Homo sapiens: one gene and its partners. The protein of the gene in region 3 purifies or fractionates together with the protein of the main gene of each other region. This does not show direct contact. Each region holds a gene or a part of one and is shown on either strand. Other genes may lie near its edges. The genes, in order: GPR89A, VMA12, TSPAN17 and TM2D3.

Region 1 (7,628 bases), on a different chromosome or scaffold from region 3:
AGTCTTGACCTTAGGACTTAAGAGTGTACTCTGGAACTGATAAGTCTTATGACGGTATAGAGGGCTCAAAACATGAGTTAGTTAACAGTTGCTTTTAAAAAAGTGACTTCTGGGTTGAAAATTAGCTACTGTTAAAAAAAAAAGATGGCCATCAGCAGGACAGTTATTAAAGAATTAACTATAAAAGACACCTTTCTTGGATCATTTATTCACCCTTTTAATCATTTAACAAATATTTATTAGTGCCTAATATGTGCCAGGTCCAAGGGATAGAATGGCAAATGAGAGCATGAATGCTACTCTCAAGGAGTTTATAATCTATGGAGGAGATAAACAAGTAATTACCAAACAATGTGGTAGTGTTGTTACAGGGGAAGTAGGTGAAGGGTACTATGGCAGTAGGTATAGGGACATCTAGTCCAGTCTAGGGGAAGCTTCTTGGATGTTCAACTTGAGATCTGAAGGCTTAAAGAAGGGGAGGGATATGAGGAAAAGGCCCAGAAAGAGAAAACACACTGTGTGGAAATCTGGAGGCACCATAGCATCGCCAGGTTAGGGAACTAAAAGAAGTTCAGGAAGTCTAAAGAATAAATTGGAGCCACAGCTGAAGAGAGAAGAGCCAGGGTCCCATCAATAAGGGACCTGAAAAGCCATGTAAAGGAGTTTGAACTTCATCCTGTGCCGTGGTGAGCAAGATTGAATACGTGACCTCTGATTTCAGATTTCATTTCAAATAAACCTTTCAGTTAATACAAAACAGAAAAAATGAGCAGGGAGGGGCGCAGGGGGCAATGGTGGTGTTTCCAAGGTAACCACACCTCTCTAGAGAGGTGCTTTTTATTAAACAAATATTCACTACAACTCTACTATGTGCCCGCAACTGATCTAGATGCTGGTGAATACAGGAGAGAACAAGACAGACAGTATCTTGGACCTCATGGACAGATAACAAACACATGAATATACAAATGAACCATAGTAATAAATGCCAAGAAGAAAATAAAACATGGAAATGAGGAAGAAGGCAGCCGAAATGGAAAGCTACTTTGGTTGTGGGCAGGGTGTCAGGTAAGACCTTCCTAAAGCGACATTTTTATTAATACCGAAAGGATGATAAAGTAGCCACATAAATATCTGAACAGAGAACATTCCATGCAAAGGAATCTTTGGGTCTTTCTTCCACATTTGTAAAAACCAGGTTTAACAATTAATTACTGCATGTGGATGCATGTGTGAAGTGAAAGTCTATGATTATAAGGCATACAAAATTAGAAAGCCACTTCCTCGGTTCAACGTATCAATTATATCCATGCTAAAAATCGTAGAGGCTGCAATGCAAAGCCAATTTTCTACTGACATTCTTATCTTTATTCTAAATGAAAAGAAAAGCTAATTAAATATTGTTATTTTTCTTAAATTGGTACTAAGGCTAAAAATAACCCTGAGTTGTCACCAAGGGCACTGGGTAGTCTTAGAAAGGTTTTAAGCAGAAGAGTTACATGTCTAGGTTTTTTTACATTAATACATTTGAATATTATGCAGCCAATAAAAACAATACTTATGAAAACTATAGAAAAGGTGGTAAATTTTAAAAATGAAAAAACTATTGCATTAGAGTGGTAGGATTATGGATGGCTTTTCCTTCTTTCTTATTTTCTTAAATATTGTAAACAAGTTTTTGAAGAGAAAAGGACAATGCTCCGCTCTACGGAGACGAGTATTAGGATGAAGCAATACAAAAACGGAATCAAAGAACACAAATTTAGTTCACTTTAAGCCCCCAAAGGTAACTGCTTCTGTTATTTGCCGTTTGAGAGAAAGAACAAGTAAAAACAACCACACACACACAAAATCTTTATTGGAAAGATGGGGGGAAGAAGGTCAACAGGCAGTCTGAGCTTCACAAATATTGGCCAACAATTATTTATTGAATGCCTGCACTTGGAAGTGGGGATACAGCTATGAACAAGGCAGGATCTCAAAAAACAAAATCAGAAACACAGACATAAATGATGCCAGTGCTATGATGAATGCTAGGAAGAAACAATAATTAACAATAGATTACATGGTAAAAGCAAGAGGCTAACTAGACGAAACTTCTATTGAGCAGAGACAGTGTCTTACATGTTTTTACGCTCAGAGCTTTATATAATGGTCGATAAATGTTTGTTGACTGTACAAACAAATGAAGGTGGCCAATGGAGAAGAAATGAGGGTCAGAAAAACATCCGGAAAAGGTGGGTAACTAAGCAGAGGATAAAGGACGAGGTGTCAGTGCAAAAACGAAACCTTATACTTTCAAGCACAGGTATTACCTTATACTGATACTTTGAAGCAGCAAATTTCTCCACACCCGGATTCAGGATTTGACATCTAACAGCAAAGCCTGCACTGACGTGTCCTCAGTATCCAGTATTGGCGCGTCGCACACCGCGCGCCCAGAACCACACAGGCTTCCCCAGTCCAGGATCAGTTGGCGCAGCCCGGAAGCTTCGAGGAGCTCCTAGAACCGCCGCCTTAGCTGGCGGCGCCGGCTCTTAGCCTGGAGGTCGGCGGACCGCTTCCAAAAGTGGACCGAAATTCCGGGGATGGATGCCGGGTGGGGACGCGGACGGCCGCAGGCCAGTCTCCTGACAGCCGGGGCTGAGGGAACCGGCCGCAGCAAATCGCACACCCTCTCTGGGTGCCAGAGTGACTAGCGCAGGACGCGTAAGAGAGGAGCGAGACCCCGGACCAGCCCGCACCGCGGAGGACCGGAGAGGGCGATTCGGTAAAGGGAGGCGGACGGGTGTCGGGGCGGGAGGCGGTGACTCACCTGGGAGGTAATCATGATGCTGGAGTCGATGAGGAAACTCATGGCGAAGTGTAAGGAAGGCTCCTGCCTCCACTTCCCACTCCCCGAGGCCACAGCACGCTGGGGCCACAGGCCCCCTCACACGGTCTGCCTTCTCCCAGGTGCTGCAGCCGGGACTGCGGCTCTCCAGCCCGACGCCATCAAGCTGCGCCCCAGTCAGCCAATCAGCGTCTACATCCACAGCCCCGCCTCGGGCTCGGGGTGGGTGGGGCGGACGCTAGGCTCCCGCCGCGGAGGCCCCAGGGGCGGGGCTTATTAGGGGCGGTGCTAAAAGCAGCAATGCAAGGTAGCGTTAACGTTTCTGAGGCTGAAGGAGGTAGGGCCTGAGAGCTAAGTGGTAATTCTGTTTTGTAATGATCCTAAGATAATAATGGTAATTATAGTAAGTCGGGCATTGTGTCCTAAATGTTATAACTTTTACTTGACTCGGCAAATATGACTGTACAAAGTGAGGGAAGACTGGAAAGTCAGATGAGATATGAACAAATATAACTAACCAAATACATTTCTGTGACAACAATGAAAAGCACACTGTCTGTAGCAATTTAGTGATAATATTGTACTGCATATCAGTCAGGCCACAGGTGGAGTACTGCACTCCATGTACCACACTTTGAAGAGATTTTACAGGCCGGGCCGGCTCACGCCTGTAATCCCAGCACCTGGGGAGACCAAGGCGGGCGGATCACCTGAGGTCGCAAGTTCAAAACCAGCCTGACAAGCATGGAGAAACCCTGTCTCTACTAAAAATACAAAATTAGCCGGGCGTGGTGGTGCATGCCTGTAATCCCAACTACTAGGGAGGCTGAGGCAGGAGAATCGCTTGAACCCGGGAGGGGAGGTTGCGGTGAGCCGAGATCGCGCCATTGCACTCCAGCCTGGGCAACAAGAGCGAAACTCCATCTCAAAAAAAAAAAAAAAGAAAAGAAAAAAGAAGAGAGAGATTCTACAGAGACATATTGGAGCTCGCTCAAATGTGAGCCACCAGATAAGGGCTGCTGGAAGGAGGCGAAGAAAGATGACTCAGAACATGACATCTGTCTTCATGTGAAAGAATGGGTAGAACTGATGTGGCGCTACGAATTATCTGTAGGGCAAAGGACTGGAAGTTAAATGAAGATAGATTTTAATTCAAAACAAGGATCAGTTCTTTAAGAGTCTGAAGAAGGGTTATTTTAGGAAGTAGCTGCCTCTGCCCCCTTCCCACCTATTGCAGTGGATCAAATATACACTGAATCACTACCTCATTCATTCAACACTCATTTCATGAAGGCTTAACGCATTGCTGTGGGGCTTACTCTGCCGCCGACCTGGGGCCTAGCTAGGCTTTGTAGTCTATATAGTCTCATAGTCCTGCAAACTGGCTCCAGCCCAGGAAATCACCCTGTGTAGGAGTGGCTGCAGTCAAGACGCAGGAAGACAATCCTGAGGGGACCTGACATCCAGCATCTGAGTTCAGACTACTATAGTTTGAATAAGTGATCTGCAGATTCATTATACACAAGGGAACATGTCTTCCTTTTGTTGGATTGAACTCTGTGATACCAAGCAGTCAAAACTACCTGTCAGATGTCCAATCCCTGATCCAGAATTTCAAGGAGCTATGGAGGCAGCTGTACAATGGGAGTGTCATAAACCAGAGAACTTTGTGTCCAGGCTATATCTATTAGGTAAGCAGGTAGATTCCCACATAACAGCACCTAACTGACATTCAAGAGTGTGTAGAGTGCAGAGTGCTGAAAGAGACTATCAAGGCAAGCAGTTTACCTTGGTGGCTTACTGGGGTGCACAGTGGGGATCAGAATATCAGTAACGAGGAATAGCAGAGAAAGGTGTGCAATACCTGCTGGCCTAAGGCCTATGCAAAGCTTTGGGTGACACTATTCAGAATGCTCCCTACTGTACCACTTGTGTCCAGGTAAAGGACAGGCCTAGGTGATTCAAGCGACTGCTTTATCCCCTGATTTTGATTGAGGAATGTCTTTAGAAACCTTCGCACTGCATTTAGTATCCAATTGACTCTCCTTTCAAAGCAAGTCTGTACTGCTGGTGGTGGACTCTGACACTAAAATGGCTTGTCCTCCCATCTCTACTGCTGGTAATATTCTCCCGATCCACTCTAGCTGCTGCCATCCTCTTAGAATAGTGGGATCTTTTGGTTCTGCCTCCATGGACAGTCACACCATCTGGGCTCTGAGTCCCCAGTTTGTGCTTTTTCCAAGGGAGCTTTTCAAAATATGTCATGTTCATAACTAGTAGCCATTGTTTGCCACTCATCCAGAGATTGACAGCCAGTCCCATAGATGTGCTACAAAGAGTCAACTGACAAGATGATCAGTCTGTGTCCTTTGGATGAGTGTTTGCTCACACCACTTTACTGTCCTTTTTCATAGCAACTGCAGTGTTCATACCTACGGTACTCTCACACTTCCCAGCACCATCCACATACTGACAGCTAACTACTTCATCCCCTTCCTCCAAATTAATGCAAAGGACTGGGCCCAGGAGTTGACACTAACATTAGATCCCTGGGAAACACCCTAGTACTTCTTCTCCGTGCACTTACATAGCACCTGCCCATGCCAGTGGCTGGATGATCTCTGTTAGGGATTTTCTTTTGAAACTTTTTACTTATTATGACATAGTTGTAGATTCACATGCAGTTGTAAGTCTGGGATCGTTTGAGACATATGGTATCACCAATTCCGTGGCATCCTACTCCCGCTGTCTCCCTTCATGGATAGACAACCTATCTTGTAGTTTTGCCCACTGTGCCAGGTTCACTGAGTCTCTGAACTCCCCTGTGTGCCCCACTAAGTCACCAGTGTAAGCTGGACAGGAAACCCCAAGTATTCAGAGGAAAAGTGTTTATTTCCCAATGGTCCCATGGACAGTATCTATACTTGATACCTAGAAAATATATAAGTGCAGTTTTCTCAAAGTGTGGTTCTCTCATGACTTGGGGAGCTTATTTAAAATGTAGATTCATAAGTCCTAATGTAGACCAGTGGACTTGGGATTTCTGAAAGTGACTCCCAGGAGGAATCTAGGAGTCAATTAATTAATAAATAAAAATTATATATATTTATCATGCATAAAATGATATCTTGAAATATGTATACATTGTGGAATGGCTAAAGCAAGGTAATTAGCATATATATTACTTCAGATATTTATTTTTGTGGTGAGAATACTTAAAATCTACTCTCAGAGATTTTCAAAAATGCAATACATTTTTATTAGTTACAGTCACCATATTGTACAATAGATCTCTTGAACTTATTCCTCTTATCTAACTGAAATTTTGTATCCTTTGACCAACATCTCTCCAACCCCACCCGACTATCCCCCACCAGCCCCTGGTAATCACCACTCTACTCTCTGCTTTTGTGAGTTCAATTTTTTTTTAAGAAGGAATCTGCATTTGTAACGGCATCCCAGGAGATTCTTATGCATACTGACTGGGGACTGGTTGTGAGACTCTGCTCCCCATCTCAAAACTTTCCTAGAGTGAGTTAGCACCTTCACACTAGGAAAATGCCAGCTCCGATTTGTCTAGAGAAAGGGGACTGAGGGCCAGAGTGGTGCTAGCTTTGCTCTTTGCTTTTTTCCACTCCCGCACCCTTTCTCTAGATATGCTCACTCTATAGCCTCAGGAAGCCTAAAGATCTTTTCCAACCACTTGCGCTTTGGCTCAAGAATTCCCCTTCATCTTCCTTGAGTCTACTTTGAACCTCTTCCCTAGTTGGTTCTCACTTTTCCAGACCTTCTTGGAGGTGCATTCCAGTCCTTTCCTCTTATACAATCTCATTTTGGATATATTGACCTTGGTGCTGACTTGGTATGCACCGCCTTGTCCAGGGCCTTGACTGGTTCATATGAGTTAGAGTCAGCTCTGTATCAAGTGCTTGGTTGTTCTTGAGGTCGTGTTCCTGAGGAAAGAAGATTAAATAGTTGTGTGGTTTTATGCAAGTTACTAAACTCTCTGTACTTCAGTTTCCTCATCTAAAAAATAGAGATAGTAATAGTATCTTATCTCATAAGGTTATTATGAAGATTAAGTAATATACATAAAGCCCTCAGGAAAATAAGCACTTTATAGTAAGTATGCAACAATTTTTACCCATTATTATTATTATTATGAGTTTACATTCAGTTTTCCTTCATCATTAGTTTCAATGTATATTTATTTATTAATATTTATAAATGTATATTTAAAAGTTTTGGTTGTCAATTATTCAAATTATACTGAAAAGACTGATGATCGTAGAGCTCTCAAATTTGGAAAGATTCAGTGGCATTATTTGAAATATATAACACCAACTTTTTCCATTTATTAAAACTAATTTTGGGATTCTCTGTTGATATAATTATCATGCAGAATGAATTTGATCCATATATTTTGTGAACAAAGGGGAAGAATATGTAGAGATTAAATTTAAAATGGAATATATTAGTTGAAGTTCAAAGTAAAGGATGTTCATATTCTTATTGTATGAACTGTTCCAAACTTCTGGTCCCCTGCCGTCTGTGCTCAGGCAGAGCAGAAAGCTCTCCCTACTGCCCCACCACTTCTTGCTCCAGGACTGACCTCTTCTTGGGATAACTACCAGCAGGGACATTTGCTTATTTTAAAGAAGTCCCCATCTTTACCACTGGATTGAGATTTGCCACCGTAATGTTAAGACAGTTGCAAAGGAGTACAACACTGGCATATTTCCAAAGTCTGGGATATTCATTCTTATTCTTGGTTAACGTGATGCATACCCACACG
Region 2 (3,570 bases), on a different chromosome or scaffold from region 3:
TTCCCTGGCCCCACTTTTTATGCAAAGGGATTCCCTACGGGAAAGGAGTTTAGCTCAGGCATCCCTCCCTTCCACTGGCCTCCAGGCCAGCCTAGATGCAGGTCCTAAGCAGACTGGGGCCTGGCTCCTGCCACCCCACACCCTGACCCCTTTGGGGCATATGCTCATTGTTGTGGCAGGTGGTACCTTCAGAAGGATGAGATGAGGGTCATGTTTTCCTCCACTCTTGCCAGGCCTGGTCCCCAGTTCTCACCAGCTGATGGCCTCCTCCTTCTGAAGGGGCAGGCTCCTGTCTCCTGAGGTCTCTCCAGGCCATTACCTTGCTAACTGCTAAGTGAGGTAGGAGAGGAGAGTGCTGCTCCTCATCTAGACTGCTGGAGAGCCAACTTCTTTATGGGTCAGGGCCCCCTCTCTTGACCATCGACCACCTGGACAAATTAATCAGAACTACGGATGTGAAGAGGGAGTGGCATTAAAGTAATGAAGCAAAGATAGGAAGCTGGGGCTTATGTTGATTTAATTTTCACAAAGATCAGATTGGATGCCCTCTGATGTGGGGCTGTGGAGACAACCTGACAGATCTGGGATGGAGGCAGGTATAGCAGCATTGGGTTTTGGTATCACCATCACCTGTAATACCAACTAATCTCCAAATAAAACCCAAACTCTGTACCTTAATCTGGATTGTTGTGCTCTGCAAACGAACGGGGACGAGGGCCGTTTGCCATGGAAATTTATCTCCATCACCTAATCCCTAAATAGGGCCAGGTTCCACACAGATACCTCTTGGTGGGAGGTATTACCCAGGCTTCAGCTGGGATTAGAGGGATAGTTAATTGAAGGGTTTAGGACTCTGACTGACAAGACCCTGGGGAGATGAGAGCCTCTGCTAGCACCCCCAGCTCCTGGTCCCACTGAATCTAGGACATTCCAGTCACCTCCACCTCTGGAGCTGCTCTGCTTTGGAGAGAAAACCATGGTGTTTGCGGTCTGCACTGGATTCAAATCCTGACTTTGCGATGTAACTGTGGCAACTCTGGAACTCTATGTGACTAAAAAATGGGGATACTTATTTGCTCTCTGTTTGGGGTATAAGAAATAATGTAGGTAAAGGGCTTTACATGGTGTGTAACACATCGTAAAAACTCAGTAAACGCTAGTTCCCTCTCCAGACAGGCCCTAAGAAACTGGGAAGGCCCTAAACTTCTTGTTCTTCCCACCTCCTGCCAAGCAGTCCCTGGACCCAGAGTGCATTACAGAAAGCATGGCACAGTGAGGCAGGAGTGGCTAGCAGATGAGAGAGCTCCCTTCTATATGCTGAGAACTGGAGGATAGGGCATTTGGTTCTCCCCTCCCAGTGCCCCCTGCTTTTTCATTGAGACAAGGTCTCACTCTGTCATCCAGGCTAGAGTGCAATAGCATGATCTTGGCTTACTCAGCTTACTGCAACCTCTGCCTCCCAGGCTCAAGTGATCCTCCCACCTTAGCCTCCTGAGTAGCTGGGACTACAGGCGTGCGCTACCATGTCAGCTAATTTCTGCGTTTTTTTGTAGAGATGGGCTTTTGCCATGTTGCCCAGGCTGGTCTCAAACTCCTGAACTCAAGCATCCTCCCACCTTGGTCTCCCAAAGTGCTGGGATTACAGGCATGTACCACCACGCCTGGCTAATTTTTTTGTATTTTTAGTAAAGATGGGGTTTCGCTATATTGGCCATGCTGGTCTTAAACTCCCAACCTCAAGTGATCCGCCTGCCTCAGCCTCCCAAAATGCTACGATTACAGGTGTGAGCCACCTCACCTGGCCCAGTGTAGCTTTTTAACACAAATTTTATATAGCTCAGGTTACTGGAAACACTGTAAAATGCCACCTACTTTTTCTTTTCACAGCTGACACTTCTCCCAACTAACAGAAACTGGCAAACATTGTAGAGGAAGTGTCCACTGAGTGAATGAGTATATAATTTATGAAAACAGAAAAGTGCTTTGGAAAAAAAAAAAAAGACAACAGGAGTACATACAGTGAACCAAAAAGAGTGTACCAGGAGGAGCAGACCCTGAACAGTTAGAACTATGGAAATCGCTATGCTTTGTGTTGTCACAGGAGTTAAAATAGGAATACCCTGCATACAATAAATATTTATTGGATAAATAACTAAGCCTGATACCCTTTTCAATGCGTTATACAGACTCTATCATCACACCACTAATCTAAGTTCTCAGAAGTTAAACATTACAAGACTTCAGAACAACATAGGCGTCTTTGGCTCCATTTAACAGAAGAAGGACCATAGTGATCATTTAATCTCTATGAGTCTGTCTTATCTTCTGGAAAAGGGGCCTAACACCATTTCCTTTTGCAAAAAGGTAGCTGCCTTGCTTCCAGTTCTACCATCCTCTAGCAACCCATCTTTCTCTTATTTGATGTCTCTGATCAGCTCCTCTTCCAGCACAAACTGGAGAAAGGGGATCCTTTCTGTTTTCTTGGAGGCTTCTGAACTCAATTACAGGTCTGCATTAAAAATGTATGGAGAAAGCTGGTGATCAGTTTGTACATATGGACAAGTTCAAGGCAGTATGGTCTACTTCTGGGAAGGCCTGGATTCCATTTGCTCCTGATGGAAAAACCCTAGTCCCAGCAGTGTTTAGAATGAACTGGAGAAGGCAGATGGGTACCAGATTCAGGAAGAGGTACTGATAGACCAAGACCAGTTCTTTCTGTTTTAAAGATGTGTTATCTCAATCTCCTCCAATGCTCCCTTTGGAAATTCACAGAAGATTAGGGCTCCCCACAGAAACAGCAGCTGGCCTGGGCTGGTCTTCTGACTAACTGGAGCTGAATACAAAAAGTCTGATGGGTTGACTGAGTCGGTGACTGCCAATTGGAGCCTGAAGCCCCCAAAGTCTTCTCTAGACTTGATGATGAAGCACCAGTTACAGTTCTCCCAGCTCGCCTTCCATTGCCCGCACCATGACATACAGCTCGGCCAGACCCACCACAGAGGCGACGATCAATGCAGCTAGCACCCGCTGGAGATGGGGAGAACCAGGCTTAAGGGATGCAGGCCAACAACCAGCTCTGTACCCCAGCAACTTTAATGAGGATGGAGAGCCCCCCAACCACCCTCTAAGTTGGGGGAGGGGAAGAAAAGAGAATGTGGCTTCTCCTGGGGTTATTACCTAACCTCCCGTGACTGCTGGAAAGCTCTAATGCTCCCCTTATTAATGGCATAAATATCTGTTCAATACCTAACCTGTGCAAGGCACTTTCACATACGTCCTCCCTTACCCACTAACACCCCCACCAGGGGCACCCTGCCCTGCCCAGTGCCTACTCACCGAGGCCATTTCTGTGAAGATATATTGGCTTCCAAGGTAAGTGCAGACGAAGGCAGCAACCACCGTGACAATGAAATTGAAGATGGTGATGACCAGAGCCTTCAATGATCTCACTTTGGGGAGGAGCCAGAGAGGGCACCTTTAGTTCAACATTCTCTAGGAGGTGCTCTTATCTCATGGCTCCCCCACCAACTGGGTTTCAGTCAAACAACAAGCCTGAGTGTCATGACCCAT
Region 3 (7,430 bases):
CCCCACCTCAGTTAACTCAACCCCATTCCTCCCCGAGCTCCTTCCCAGGATGCTCCGCCTTCACCTGCCCCGGGGATTGGTCCAGAGGCAGCCAATCAGAGCCAAGGAAATACAATTAAAGCACTTTGGGAAAACAGCTGGGAAGTGAGCTCTCAGCCTCCAGCAGGAGTTCCTGGAGGGCTGTGTTCCTGGAGGGACCACCTGTGGCTGGTCCCACGGCCTCCAGCCTCAGCCTTCTGCCGTTCTTCCTCCTCACGCTCGTCTTCCATCCCATCATGACGCTGGCATCTCCCGATCCCCACCCAGACCTCATGCTGGTCCCACACCCCTACGTCCACCCGCCTGCAGCAAACACCTCCACGACCCACCGGCACTGATCGCCGCCATGCCGGGGATTCGCTGGTGAATAGGACGGACTCGACCCTCACGGAGCTTACACTCCAGCAGGGGAGATGGACAGTCAGTGAGCAGACAAGGAAACCTCAGATGCAAACAGACCCCTTAACAAATATCGAGCGGGGCGACGAGATGGGGGATGCTGGGGTTGGACGCCAGCTTTAGAGAGGGCAGAAGGGAGGGTGGGGGCATTTCAGCTGAGGTTTGAATGATGAAAAGAGCAAGAGGGAAAAGCCTGTTCCAGGAGGAGGGTAGGGCACAGGCAGAGGCCCTGACACAAGACCACGTCTAGTTCAAGGAACAAACTGAAGGGCGGACAGCCCGGCCCCGCGGGGCCCTGGAGGCCGACAGTACTCTAGGAGCAGTAAGAAACCACGAGCAGGATGGCCGGGCGTGGTGGCTCACGCCTGTAATCCCAGCACTTTGGGAGGCCAAGGCAGGTGGATCACCTGAGGTCAGGAGTTCGAGACCAGCCTGACCAACATGAAGAAACCCCATCTCTAGTAAAAATACAAAATTAGCCAGGCGTGGTGGCACACACCTATAGTCCCAGCTACTTGGGAGGCTGAGGCAGGAGAATCGCTTGAACCTGGGAGACGGAGGTTGCAGTGAACCGAGATCGTGCCATTGCACTCCAGCCTGGGCAACAAGAGCAAAACTCTGTCTCAAAAAAAAAAAAGAAAAAAGAAAAAAGGAAACCACAAGCAGTTTCCAAACAGAACAACACCAGGGTCTGCCTGACATTAAACATGAAAACCTCTGTGCCTGTTCCACAAGCAGCCTCCCTTAGGCCACCTTAACCCAAATCTGAAATCCTCCCTCCAGCCCCCAAGTGACCCAGCCCAGTCAATTCAGCCTCTTGACTTTCCCAGCAACCTCCCTCACCTTTCCCACCTCACCATCCCAGCTTTGCCCCAGCCCTGCCCCCATTCCAAACCTCCAGGCCCTGCCCCTCATCCACCCTCCACACAGCAGCCAGGCAAGCGGTCTCCAGAACAGAAGCCAGATCAGACCCATCACTGGAAGCCCTCGCTTCTCCATGCCACCTTAACATAACACCCCACGCTCCGCCCCAGCAACAAACCCGGGTCTCTCACGCCTGCTCCCCCTCGGTATTTGAGGTTACTTCTGCTCACAGCTCTGCCTCACCTCCACCCTCTGCCCACTAAGCCGTCACCTTGGCTCTGTACTTTCTGGCTGTGTGACCCTAGGTAAGTGACTTAATTTCTCTGTGTCTATTCCTTCAGTTTCCCCATCTGTAAAATGCAGATAATAAGGCAGTTGTGAGAATACAACAAATTGAACTCATTGTATCTGCCTAACAGCCCTCACAGGCAGATTCTTTATCGTCGTCTCCCAGGCAGGCAAGCTGAGGCCCGGAGAGGAGAGATGACTTGCCCAAGGTGTCCCAGCCAGGCCTGCTACAGCCAGGCCTTCTGACTTCTTTGCCAGTGCTCCCACACACTGCCCACACCCTCAAGAGCCTAGCGCTGCAGTGCAAGGACACCCACCACACCAGTGAGCTCGGTGACACGTGGGTGGGGGGCAGTGCCACTGAGTCTTGCTGAACACAAGGGAAAAGGCCTGGCATCTTGACCCAAGGCCTCAGGAGCAGAGACTGCAGAGGGCCACGGCTTTGGAGAGATGGGAAAAATGACCTGGCAGGGCCCAGGGGGACAGATGCCACCCTGGGAGGGGCACTAGTAGCTCCCTTCCCCGGTAGGGGCAGACCCGCCCAGGAGCCTCAGCTTGTCAGCTGTGGAATGTTGAATTCTGTTCCCCAAGGCCAGCTCCCAGGCTCTCAACCGGGGAGATCCTCTCCCAGCCGCCAAGGACTCGCCATTGTCCCTCCCTGCCCCTCCTGGCAGGTCAGCCTCCTTGTGCGGGACTGGGGTGGGCAGAGGACTGTGACCCACCCCACTCTGCAGGAGCCTAAGGTGAGGCACCTGACCCAGGTACTACTGGAAGGGAAAGGAGGCCGGGGAAGGGGCCTGGCGGCTCCCTTCACGCCAGAATCTCCTTACCGGCTAAACCAGGGGTGGGGCTTGGCACGCATCCCACATCCCAGGGTAGGAAGGAGGGCTGGGCGAGAGGGGGCAACCTGCACCTAGCACGCCCCTGGGGTCTTCAAGGAAACACCTTCCCTTTCTCCACCAGGCCTCGGGATTATTTAGGGAGACTCCCTACCCCAACCCCGACCCCACGCTGTCGCTAGGACCCGCCCCCAGCAATCCGGGCCTCTGTAGCTACCTCGGGTGGTCCTGGAAGTGGGCGTGGGTGTGGCAGAAGTGGGGGGATGGTCCCGAGCTCCAAACTCTTGGGGCAGGGAGTGGTCTCCCCCAGCAAAAGACTGAATCTCCCTCTCCCACCACCCCCCAGCACAGGGCAAGGCGCAGACCCCGCGCTCACCCAGAAGACAATGTTGAAGCCAAACAGGAAGTATTTCCCGCAGCAGCCGACCTCAGGTTCCTGGAAATGCTGGTGCTTGCCGGGCATGGTGAGCGGCCACCCGCCGGCCCGGAAACCGGAGCCGGGAGCCAGGCCCAGCGCCCCGCGGGCCGCCCTGGGCTAGAGCCGCCCGGGGCCTAGCCGGGCGGCTGCGGCTTCATGGCCTCGGCCACACAGAGCGCCGGTCGGGCCCCGCCCGCCCCTCAGGGACCGCCCTCAGCATCCAGACCTCCTTGCCCGGAGCCCTGCTGTCCCCGCCTCTGGACCGGGCCCCGCCCCCACAGCCCTCAGTCCCTTTGGAGTCCCGCCTCCTGACCTGGCTCCGCCCCCATAGATCAACTCAGTCCCGCCTGAGCCCCGCCTCTGGACCTGGCTCCGCTTCCCGAGCTCCGCCCCCACAGCCTGATTCGGACCTCCTCGCAGCCCCGCCTTCGGCCAGGCCCCGCCCCCGCGCAGGCCGCCGCCGCGTTTCCCAGCGTCCTGCAGACCCGCCCGGGACGCCGGCTGATGGCGCCGGAGGCCGCCGGGGTGTAGAAGCCTTGCTTCCCCTGCTGGGTACCAGCGCCATCCCAATCCCCAGCCTGCTGTTGGAGCCCATCCCAGGGGAAGGTTAACTGCTGCTCTGGCAGGCGAATGGGGAAGCTGGTCCGGATTGAGTTTTTAACACGTGCAGGACGTTTTGTCATTGTGGAGTCGCATCAGGCTCACCTTCACCCAGCGGAAATCCAGCTCTACTTATCCTGACTCAAACTCAGGCCAAACGAGGGCCTGGGCCTTGGTGCCACGCCGGCTGCGCCCTGCCAGGGGCATATGCCCCCCGGAACCTGGCTCAAGCCCCCTTGGTGGCTGAGTTTCCCCAGCCACACCCCCTGTCCTCCATACTGGCCAGGGTCCCGGTCAGGCTCCTTGGTACCCAGTGATCTCACATGAGCCCCTGTAAGACAGGACAGAGGCAGATCAAAGTTTGGGGGAACCTGAATCTTACTCCAGTTTGAAGCCCTCTTAAAAATAATTCCAACTTTGTTCAGAAGTATTTATTTAAAACAGGAACAGAAAGATGCTTAAGCTTTTATTATCAAGTTTATCCACTTCCACCACTTCTACCAGAACCTTGGTGAGGCCTAGCCCAGCATCCCTCCACCTCCACTTCAGTCTGGCCCTGAGGCAGGCAAGGCCCAGACAGCCCTGGTCACAGCTGGGGAGAAGGGGAGCGGCCTTGCAAGGCTCTCTCAGTCCTCAGCAACCCACGTATCCCTCTGTACAAATGATGGCGTTCACCCTCCAGAATGTCTGTGCCCTTGAGCCCACCACCCATGGAAGAGTCTGTCTCTCAGGCCACCTCACCTCCTTCCTGGGTGGAAACAGTAAACGCTGGACTATGGGTTTCTCCGCCTACCATAGAGCCCTCCTTCCCCGCCATGACTCACCCCACCCTCAGGAGTTTTTTCCACCCTGCTGCTGTCCTGTGGCCCCAGGACAAGCTAGGTCCTCAGACTGCCACCACTACCCCCATCTAGCCCCTAAGGCTCAGGCCCCAACTCATGTTAAAGAGTGTTTGCATTCCTGTTCACTTGAGGACAGGTAAGAACTAGGCTGTCTGATCCCCAGTCCCGCCCCATCCCCCAAAGTAATGAGGCTCAGTGGCGGCTGTCCCATTACATAGGAGGGGTGCCAAGGCCCCCCTCACACCACAAACTTGTTCTTGGCTAGGGAGTTGCTCTTGGTGGCTGTGTCTGCATGGGCCTGGTACCCAATGATGGTCTTTGGGGAGAGGCCCAGGCGCTCTTTGTATACACGCCTGCAGGTGCGGGGGACACAGAGGAAAAGAGACACAGGTAGTCATCAGAGGGTCCTAGAGATAACTTAGGCCACCAGACTCCTACCCTCATTCTGGCCACAGCCACACCTGTTGTGTCTTACCCATGTGGAAACCCAAAATATGACCCCCTTAATGCAAAAGGAGAGCTGCACTGCCGTAAGAGAAAGTTAGAAATCTGAACGCCAGACCTTCCATACAGGTGGGCAAGGCAGAAGGGAGGGAGGCTATGGAGACTTTCAGAGGTCTCCCATGCAGGCCAAGCCCCCTCCACCCACCTTCCCTCTAGCAGAGACCCAAGTCCCCACCCTGTGCCAGAGACCCTCCTCACCCAACGTGCAGCACGCCCGCCTGGTTTTCCGCCTCCCTCGTCCACACAGCGATCTTGTCCCCCTTGGTGCGGATGTTGACGACGGCCCCACATACCTCTCTGCTGTGTTCCTCAAAGCTCTCCCCGATCAGACACAGCAGCTGGACCCGAAGTAGGGGGTTGTGAGATCACCGGCTGGGACATAGGGACTGGCCTGCCATCCTTGAGACCACTGCCACCATGAGACCCACACAGCCCGTCTCTTCCCCTGAGGACCCTCCTCCTCCAACTCACCGTCTCCAGCCACAGCCGGTCCAGCTCAATGTGGCGCTGCTGCTTGGCCAGGCTGACCAGCCAGCGGCCACCCCGTTTATTCCTGCTGTCCTCCCACATGGGCTGGATGCCATCCTGCAAGGCAGATGGCAAGTCAACTGCCTCCCTGTGTTCAAAGGGAAATGGGGACCCACCCACCATCCCGGCCTTATCCGCTCTCTGCTGAGGCCCTAAGTAGGCCAGATTCTCTTATCCTCCCTTCCCTCAGTGCAAGCAGGTTCCACCCCCAGCCACTCAGCTCCCCCCGACAGACAGCACTGGTCACCTTGTATAGCCTTGTATATGTGCATGTCTCTTTTACTGAGTTCCTTAAGACAAGCATTCAAATCGGGGTGGATTAAGGAAGCCTCAGGGGCAGACCCCAATGCAGGCAAGGGGGACATCCCAGGCTTGGCTGCATGGTTCCCAGGCAGGGCAGAAGTCACTGGGGAGATCTCTAAACACAATGTCAGCCCTCCAGGGATGGGTGTGGCATCAATGAGTGTCCTCAAGCAATTCTGATGCCCTTCCCTAGTTAAGGAGCCAGGTCAGAAATCTCTCCCTCTCCCTCTTCCCGCCTCTTAAGGTCCTCCAAGGTGCGGCTTGGGCCTGACCTACTCTGTCCGGGCTCCTGTAGAGCATTTCCTCCAGTCAGAAACCACAACTCTGCTGAGAGGTGGCCCGTAGCTCCCCACCCCCACCCCTCTGAGGGATTAACGCAGTGGAGTCCGGGAGGGATCAACCCCTTGTCCCTTTGCGGGAGGGAAAGAGGAGAGCAGAGCTTACCTTGAAGAGGGCGTAGTCACAGCCAGAGGAGAGCTTGCTGGCCAGCTGGATGTGACTGTATAGCCTGGACAGAGCCCCCGACCCCATGCCAAAAGTCAAGGCTTTTTAGGGCCTGGTTCCAACTGGGTTCAGCCCTCCCAACTCCTCATCCGACCCCATGGCCTCCAAGCCTTTGCTTACACTGGCCTGCCACCTGGGATTCCACTCCCGTTTATCCAAACTCTCAAGACCCACCTTTTCCACAGAGCCTTCCCAGTGAAGGCTGAGCCAACCCCTGGGGAGGGTTTTAGACCCCCTGGTGCTCCCCCCTCCAGCTACAGCCGAGGCCTTCTCACCCTCCCTAGGGCTTGTGTAGCCCTTTTCAGAGCCACTCCCGTGAGCACCCGGACACTGAGGCAGCCGAGTCCTCCCTTTGCAGCTGAGACAGGTTCAGAGAGGGGAAGGAACTTGCCCAGGTCACAAAGCCCTGGAGTGGCCGAGTCAAGGTCAGCTTCCTGCTTCTCCTGCTCCCCAGGCTCTCTCCCTGAGCCCAAAGAAGGTGGTGGGGTGGGGGGTGGTTGTGCCCTATACCCCCTGGGCAGAACCCACAAAGCCCCAGCCCTCACAAAGGCTGAAAGGCCCTAGGGAGGGCTGGCTCAACCCGGAGAGAGGGAGCCCAGAGCTCAGAGCCCCCCAACTCTAGCCCCACTGGGGACAGACACTCACGCCCAGAAGTCCTCCACAGTGTCCACCTTGGTGACCAGGTGCAGGTTGTCCTGCCAGGCCCGGCTGCGGTCATTCTTGAAGAACCACAGAGCCCACCTGGTAGGGGAAGGGGGAGGCAGCCAGGAGGAAGCAGAGAGCCAAGTCCACCCCCGGGGCACCTGGACTGACAGGGAGGACCCTCCCCTTCAAGGGCGAACTGGGAGATGAGATTTGGGGCACAGCATTCCCCTCTCAGGTGAATGAAATCAGTTGTCCTGAAGGGCAGGGGAGGAGTGGGGGTGTTTGACCCACAGTCTCTGCGGGGTTAGGGCTGGAAGGGCCAACAGGGCCCAAGGCTTAGGTCAGCCCTGGCCTCCCACGGATGAAGAGCTAGGGCCAAGAGAGGCGGGGTTGCCCAAGGCCACGCTGCCAGCACAGAGGCTGGCCTGAAAGCAAGGGGCTGTGTTCCACTCGCAGGCTCCTGCCTACCTGTTCTGCAAGGGGTGCAGCTCCAGCTTGACTTCCATGGGGCCCCCCGTCCGGGCCTTCCCTCTCAGAGACAGCAAAGTCCTGGGAGAGTTTGGAGACTTTTCTCCTGTGGGCGTCCTCTCTGCTGCCTCCTCCTCCTTCTCCTCCTCCTCCCACTCTCGGATTCCACCCTCAGCTTCACTCACCTGA
Region 4 (7,033 bases), on a different chromosome or scaffold from region 3:
TACATTAAAAACATAGAAATATATCACTCACACCACATCAACTCCTACGGACAAAAGGGCTTTTTCTAAGCCCTGCTCCTTTCTGAAGCACACACCACAGCTAAATGTACAAAGAGCCATCTGCTGGTCCAACATAGCCAACTCCAATGAGCAGGACGTCTATCAGCGTCCATATTCCCAGGCCACCGAAGCTGAAGAGCTTGCCGAGGCCTTCCCGCCACTGGCCCAGGTAGAAACGGTCTGCTCCAAACCCACCGAGGGTGATGCTGCGATGGCAAACAGACAGGATTCCATGAGACCACCTCCACCCCAGCTGTGGCCAGTCACGGTTTAATCACCACATTATGTCAGATTTGAGAAAGGGCTTCCCCTGATCGTAGCCCTTAACTGGAACACAAGTGACTATTTCACAAACTGACACCACCAAATAATTACGGGCAGGAAGACAGTTTAAATGTCAAAAGTAAACATACAATTTTTAGCTGTACTAAAAAACCAATGTTTTCTTTTTTTAAAGTTATCAATCTCATTGCTTTTTAGTCAAAATAAAGCAAAGACCCAGTCTAACAGGAAGTGCACTAACACGGGGTCAGGGCTGGAGTCAGGAGGAGCTCACCACCACCTGGACGACCTGGATCAAGTCATCCATGTTTTCAGTCTATTTTTTCATTCATCTCTAAAATCTTAATGTTAGGAATAAATCCTTAAAAGATTTAAGGATCTTTTAAATTCTAAGATCTAATAATACTGAAACTATATTATGGAAAATTTCTAAACACCTAACAATAAAAAGTAAAGAGAACAGTACCCATGACTCAGCTCCAATAATCAACACTTGGCCAGCTGTGTTTCATCAAAACCCTCCTCTTTCCCCTCCAGAGTACCCTGAAGCAAACCTTGGGCATCATCTCATTACAGTGATGATTTTAAAAGAAACCATGTTGCCGGGCGCGGTGGCTCACGCCTGTCATCCCAGCACTCTGGGAGGCTGAGGCAGGCGGATCACAAGGTCAGGAGATCCAGACCATCCTGGCTAACACGGTGAAACCCTGTCTCTATTAAAAATACAAAAAATTAGCCAGGCGTGGTGGCGGGCGCCTGTAGTCCCAGCTGCTCGGGAGGCTGAGGCAGGAGAATGGCGTGAACCTGGGAGGTGGAGCTTGCAGTAAGCCGAGATTGAGCCACTGCACTCCAGCCTGGGTGACAGAGAGAGACTCCGTTAAAAAAAAAAAAAAAAAAAAAAAGCAAAAAAAAAAAAAAACCATGTTGAGTGCTGAGAAGTTTTAATTGTTGAAAGTATGTTACAGTATAGTACTGTAAGAGGTTAACAATGTAGGGAAACCAGGTTAGGGGTATATAAGAACTCTACTATCTTTGCAACTTTTCTGTAAATTAAAATTATTCCAAGTTTCAAACATTTATTTATTTTTTTAAAAAGCCAGTTGTTAATTTGAACCATTGTCAGCAATGGTTACTAATCTTTTTTTTTGAGACAGAATCTCACTCTGTCACTGAGGCTGGAGTGCAGTGGTGCAATGCCAGCTCACTGCAGCCTCCTCCTCCTGGGCTCAAGTGATCTTCCCATTGCAGCCTACCACGCAGCTGGAACCACAGACATGAACCACGATGGCAGGCTTTTGTATTTTTGGTAGAGATGGGGTTTCACCATGTTGGCCAGGCTGGTCTTGAACTCCTGACCTCAAGCAATCCGCCAGCCTCGGCCTCCCAAAGCGCTGGGATTACAGGTGTGAGCCATCGCGCCCGCCCTATCTTATTTTTGTTAGTCTCATTTTCTATCCTGGCACCCTCTTTTACTTTTCAGTTACACTTTTCCTGCCAGGCAAGATCCTTCTTTCCTCAGCTCAAATTCTAATGCAGTGGTTCTCAGCAAGGGGCAATTTTGTCCCCTAGGGGACACCTGGCAACATCTGGAGACACACTGTCACAGCTGCAAGGGATGGGGGGTTTGCTACTGACAAGTAGTAGGTAGAGGCCAGTGATGCTGCTCAACACCCTGCTATGCACAGCACAGCCCCAAGACAAAAACTCATTCAGCCCAGAACGTCAGCAGTGATGAGGCTGAGAAATCCTGCCCTATGGCTGCAATGCTGCAGGCCTCAGGGTCTCAGGCACGAACTCAAAACTTCAAGTGTAGGCAGCGTAACCTTTTCACTAATCAGTTAACCAGGGTCTTACCTGCCCTTCCCTTTGGTGGGAAGAACTGCTATAATTTCTTAAAGTACTGTTGAGAAGTTTAACAAACAGCACATTTCTATGTAAGAAATATAAGCCTATAATTATCTGCTGCTGATGAAATTATAGGTAATTTTTAATGTTTTTGTCATTTTCATTTTTCCAGTTTTCAGTGTTCATCATGTATTACTTTTTATAATAGTTACTTAAAATTAAAGATATACATCATAAAACTGCCTATTTTGGATAGTCCACAGCATTTTACTGATTCGTGGTACATTCAGAATGGTAAACGTAATGTGCAGGCATCTTGGGAGAAAAGCTAACATGCCTGCCAGTCAACTCCACGGAGGTACTGGTCTGATCATCTAAACTCTTCCAGCTGTTTGCTAGAGTCTAACACACGTGGTAGGATCTGAGTGAAGAATGAAGGGGACTGAGCTCAATGTCTGAAGATTCCACCAATCCCAAAGAAATGCAAACGGCCTTTTACACTTACGAGTAACAAGGCTTACCTTAGAGCCAGAGCCGTAGACCACTTATAGCCTCCAGTCCAATTGCAATATAGCATTTTGGGAAAAGTACGGTTACCTTAAAAAAAAAAAAGAAAGAAAAATACAGGGTATAAAAAATACTCTCAGAAAGACTTAATTGTAACAAATGGGCTCAAAATTTAAAATGTGAAAAGTCAACTCTCTTTACGGTAATACATGTTGAAGTGAAGAGTACAAAGCGCTTACCATCTATCTACATAGATGTAATATTTAAATCAGCTAAGTTAGGATTACAACGTGAGGAACATGAAATGCTCACCCACATATCAAGACCTACGGGGAAGTTACGAGTATATAAGACAGTGTAGTCTTGAGGCATAAAAATCACCCAATAGGAAAAGAAGAGAAAGTCAAGAACCAGAAATATACAAACACTTCATGTATGAGTGTTATGACAGAGGTCACACACGGATCAACAGGGAAGAGTTGAGACAACTGGCCATCCATGTGGGGGGACAATTAAAGTAGAATCTACCTCACACCATCTACCAGGACCAATTCCAGGTGGATTCTAAACCTAAATGTGAAATGTTATACTTACAACTTTCAAAAGAAAATGTAGCAAATTGTCTTTATTAACCTGGGGTAGAAAAAGATTTCTTAAAACCACCACAAAAAAGGACTAACTCTAATAACTTCCAGTAATTATATTTTTAAAGTTCTGTTCATGAAAATATACAATAATGCAAAAAAAAAAAAAATCAAAATCTGGGAGAGGGTTTCAGGGACAGCACAGGTAATATCCAAAATATAAAAGAAGTCTAGACAACTTTAAGACCAAATTTAAGAATAACCACTCTTGGAGAGAATATGGCTCATCAGGAACAGTTACATAGCGCGGGTGGGAATGCCAGTCAATACAGCCATTTAAAGAATGACACACGCTGGAAAGTACATGCTGAAGAAGCTCTTGCACCTGTGCCATTGGGAGACAGGCAAAGAAATTTGAACAGTCACAACAGCGGAAAACAGCACTTAACCAAATATATTGGAGAATAAACTGTGATACAATCTTACAATAGATTATTACACAGAAGTAAAAAAAAGAAGAGAAGTCACGTGGATGAATCCTAGAGCCACAATGTTTAGGAAATAAGCAAGTCCCAGAAGAGCACACAGCCTGAAATCATTTTACACGGTTCTAAAACATGCATTATTGAATATTATTTTATTACATATAGACAATAAAACTACAGAAAAAATTTAAAAGGAAGTGAAATAAAAAATTCAAAAGGGTGGTTACCTTGGAAGAGGAGGAAAGGCAACCAGGTGAAGGCAAGCACTCAGGCACTCAGGCGGCCGCAATGGTATTGGTGCTGCTTTCATTGTTATTTTGGGTAAAGGTCAATTACTGTGTATTATGCTTTATACTTCAAATGTTTTTCTTATTTTATCAAATATTACATTTAAAAAGAACTGCAATTTTCTGGATGCTTTACTTTAGTACGTTGAGTTTATTGATGATGCTTGGCACATCTAAAGAGCTGCTGATAAATGTTTCTAATTAAGTAACTTGACTCGCAAATTTCTGGTTAAAGTCCCTTCAATAAACTTGGAGAAAAACATTTTGTTGACAAATGTCCTTGAACTCTGACCTACCCAAGCAGTGGACGTGGTCCCGCACCGTGCAGTTGGCAGGGTAGCGCTGCCGAGGACAGGACACCGTCATGCAGCTGGTGGAGTTGGTACACTCGTAATCTGTTTCAGGAAGCTGCCAGCAAAATCTGCAAGTCATGTTAATGATGAAGTTCTTTTGGGATTTGAAGTCTTGATCCTATGTAGCAAATGACACAAAACTCATCAATCACAATGGTGTAGTCTGTTAAGATGTCAGTAAGACTACACAGTCACATGGCACAAAATTCCGTAAATGCTTGTATTTAGGACCTAGGAGTAAGTGCCAGAAAAACAGTTACCAAAACAATATGTATGTAAAACAAATGCCTATGATGTGACCTCATAATCATAAAACTACACACCCAAACATATGTACTTAAGGGAAAAAACTAGATAAATTCACATCAAAATAGCAAAGGTTATTTCAGGGTGATATAATTATTTCATAACTTTTGCTTAGCTAAATTTTTCATAGTAAACGTATACTTTTATAATGCAGAAAAGAGGAAAATTTATTTTAGAAAGTCACAATCACGGATGGCTGGAAGGAACTGATGAATGCATTTGTTGAAGGTCACTGAGCTTCAAGTGAGGAGTGGAATCCAGGTCCCTGAACTCCAGCCTGATGCTTCTGTAATGGTTAACACACCGCCTTGCTTCCGAGTTGCCAACCTTCCCTAACATCCCCTACCTTGCACAGCCTGGCAACTCAGGGTTGTTACAGCTGCTCCTACCACCAGGGCATGTGGCATGTTTAATCCAGAGGCAGCCCAACTCAGAAGCACCACATGGTGTGTGGAGGCTCAGTGAGTGTTCACTGGTGGCCAGAGAATTTTTCATTTCAATTTTAAAAGCCATTATTTTGTATTCTGCTTACAAAAGTAGAATGTTCTTTGTATGTTACATATTTGAAGATTATAGACAAAAACCTATAGGTGTTCAGAGCTAACCACTTTTAATCTTCTTTCCGTTTCTTCTACATGTATATTTATAAATTTACTAAAATGGAATTATACTGAAAGCACTTTGTAGTCTTTTTACTCTACCTGACATTACATTGCAGTGCATATTTTTCAAAATCATTTTTATGTGGTCACACATCTCTGGAAGCATCATGTATATATATGTATACATATATATACACATACACACATTATTTTTTTTTCTTTTTTTGAGATGGAGTCTCGCTCTGTCGCCCAGGCTGGAATGCGGTGGTGCAATCTCGGCTCACTTCAACCTCCGCCTCCCAGGTTCAAGCGATTCTCCTGCCTCAGCCTCCTGAGTAGCTGGGATTAGAGACGCACCCCACCACGCCCAGCTAATTTTTGTATTTTTAGTACAGATGGGGTTTCACCATGTTGGCCAGGCTGGTCTCAACCTCTGACCTCAGGTGATTCACCTGCCTCGGCCTGCCAAAGTGCTGGGATTACAGGTGTAGGCCACCACGCCCGGCCCATGTTTGTTATTTTTTTTAACATTTCACAAATTTGCATGTCATTTTTGCAGAAGAGCCATCCTAATTCTCTCTGTATGGTTCCAACTTTGGCATATGCGCTGATGAAGCAAGTACTATTCATTTTCTTATCAATGCAAAAACCACTTTTTATGGAAAACATTCAAATATGGGTAAGGCATCACTTGATTTAGGCAAACAGTTGGATCTGCAAAATAATACGTTTACATCTGCCTATTTTCAGTGATGTGCTTAAAACACACTTTTTTTAATGGTTTTTTAAAAAGTAGGTGACACATGTACATGGAACACATGTCAAGACACAACAGGAGAGTGAGAAGTGAGCCGGCCTCGTCTGGCCCAGCCGCCGGGAGCCCCTGCCCTCCCCAGGCCAAGTACGCTCTGTGCTTCCAGAGAGAGCTGATTCTACACATAGGCACATTTATGTCACCTACATTTAATGTTCCCCAATACTTTCACTTAATTTTGGACATCTATCAGTACATTACCTCTAGAGCTGCCTAGTTCTTTTTAATGGCTACAAGGTGTTTATTCTATTACACGTGTACCATAAATTAAGCAGTTCTTAGACATTTCACTTCTTTTGAATCTTTTGCTTTAATGAGCAATGCAGCTAAAAAATAAGCACACTTATCTGCATCCATGTATAATGATATCTATAACATAAATTCCTACATGTACAACTACGAGCTCAACGATTGTGTGCATGTGTAAGTTTAACAGATATGGCAAATCGCCTACAAGAGGTTGATCAATTTGATTACCTATTAATAAGATATGAGCATCTGACCCTTATACTCTCACAAACTCAGAGTTAATCAAATTAAAAAAAAATTGCCAATCTAAGGGTTAAAAATGTATTAATTAAATACTATGAGAAAACTTATATGTTTTTCATGTTATATATCTATTTGTATTTCCTTTCCTATGAACCATCTGCTCATGTCCTAACACTGTTTTTCTACAAGACTGTCATCTTTTCCGTGTGGGTTTTAGGAAGTGTTTATATATTACTGATATTACTGTATTATTTGTCACATATTCTAGAAACGCTTTTTCCTAGTTTGCCATGTCTTTTGCCTTTATGCTTTTTTTTTTAGGTCATGCAGAAATCTCCAATTTTTAGGAGTCAAATGTATCAATTCTTTATTTTATGGCTTCTAAACTTTATTTCATACTTAGAAAAATATTCTCC

The links.
Region 1: the proteins of TSPAN17 (region 3) and GPR89A purify together in Homo sapiens (affinity purification with mass spectrometry, with the first as the bait; 3 studies listed by BioGRID). This does not show direct contact.
Region 2: the proteins of TSPAN17 (region 3) and VMA12 purify together in Homo sapiens (affinity purification with mass spectrometry; 3 studies listed by BioGRID and IntAct, with this or other methods). This does not show direct contact.
Region 4: the proteins of TSPAN17 (region 3) and TM2D3 purify together in Homo sapiens (affinity purification with mass spectrometry; 3 studies listed by BioGRID and IntAct, with this or other methods). This does not show direct contact.

Annotation. Positions count from the first base shown.
Region 1 is NC_000001.11:145,603,363-145,610,990, reverse strand, and holds the start of GPR89A (Golgi pH regulator A), read right to left. Parts: upstream 3,004-7,628; 5' UTR 2,858-3,003; coding exon 2,816-2,857; intron 2,374-2,815; exon of another isoform or gene 2,316-2,373; intron 1-2,315. UniProt on the Homo sapiens protein: Voltage-gated channel that enables the transfer of anions such as iodide, chloride, bromide and fluoride which may function in counter-ion conductance and participates in Golgi acidification.
Region 2 is NC_000017.11:28,360,614-28,364,183, reverse strand, and holds the end of VMA12 (vacuolar ATPase assembly protein VMA12), read right to left. Parts: intron 3,531-3,570; exon of another isoform or gene 3,450-3,530; coding exon 3,337-3,449; intron 3,028-3,336; coding exon 2,932-3,027; 3' UTR 501-2,931; downstream 1-500. UniProt on the Homo sapiens protein: Accessory component of the proton-transporting vacuolar (V)-ATPase protein pump involved in intracellular iron homeostasis.
Region 3 is NC_000005.10:176,643,078-176,650,507, reverse strand, and holds the start of TSPAN17 (tetraspanin-17), read right to left. Parts: upstream 3,025-7,430; 5' UTR 2,893-3,024; coding exon 2,806-2,892; intron 1-2,805. Other genes in the region: EIF4E1B (eukaryotic translation initiation factor 4E type 1B), read right to left, coding at 4,528-4,642, 4,992-5,131, 5,265-5,378, 6,069-6,132, 6,774-6,869, 7,242-7,426. UniProt on the Homo sapiens protein: Part of TspanC8 subgroup, composed of 6 members that interact with the transmembrane metalloprotease ADAM10.
Region 4 is NC_000015.10:101,642,379-101,649,411, forward strand, and holds part of TM2D3 (TM2 domain-containing protein 3 isoform a precursor), read right to left. Parts: intron 4,522-7,033; coding exon 4,347-4,521; intron 2,785-4,346; coding exon 2,709-2,784; intron 267-2,708; coding exon 101-266; 3' UTR 1-100. UniProt on the Homo sapiens protein: Probable positive regulator of Notch signaling.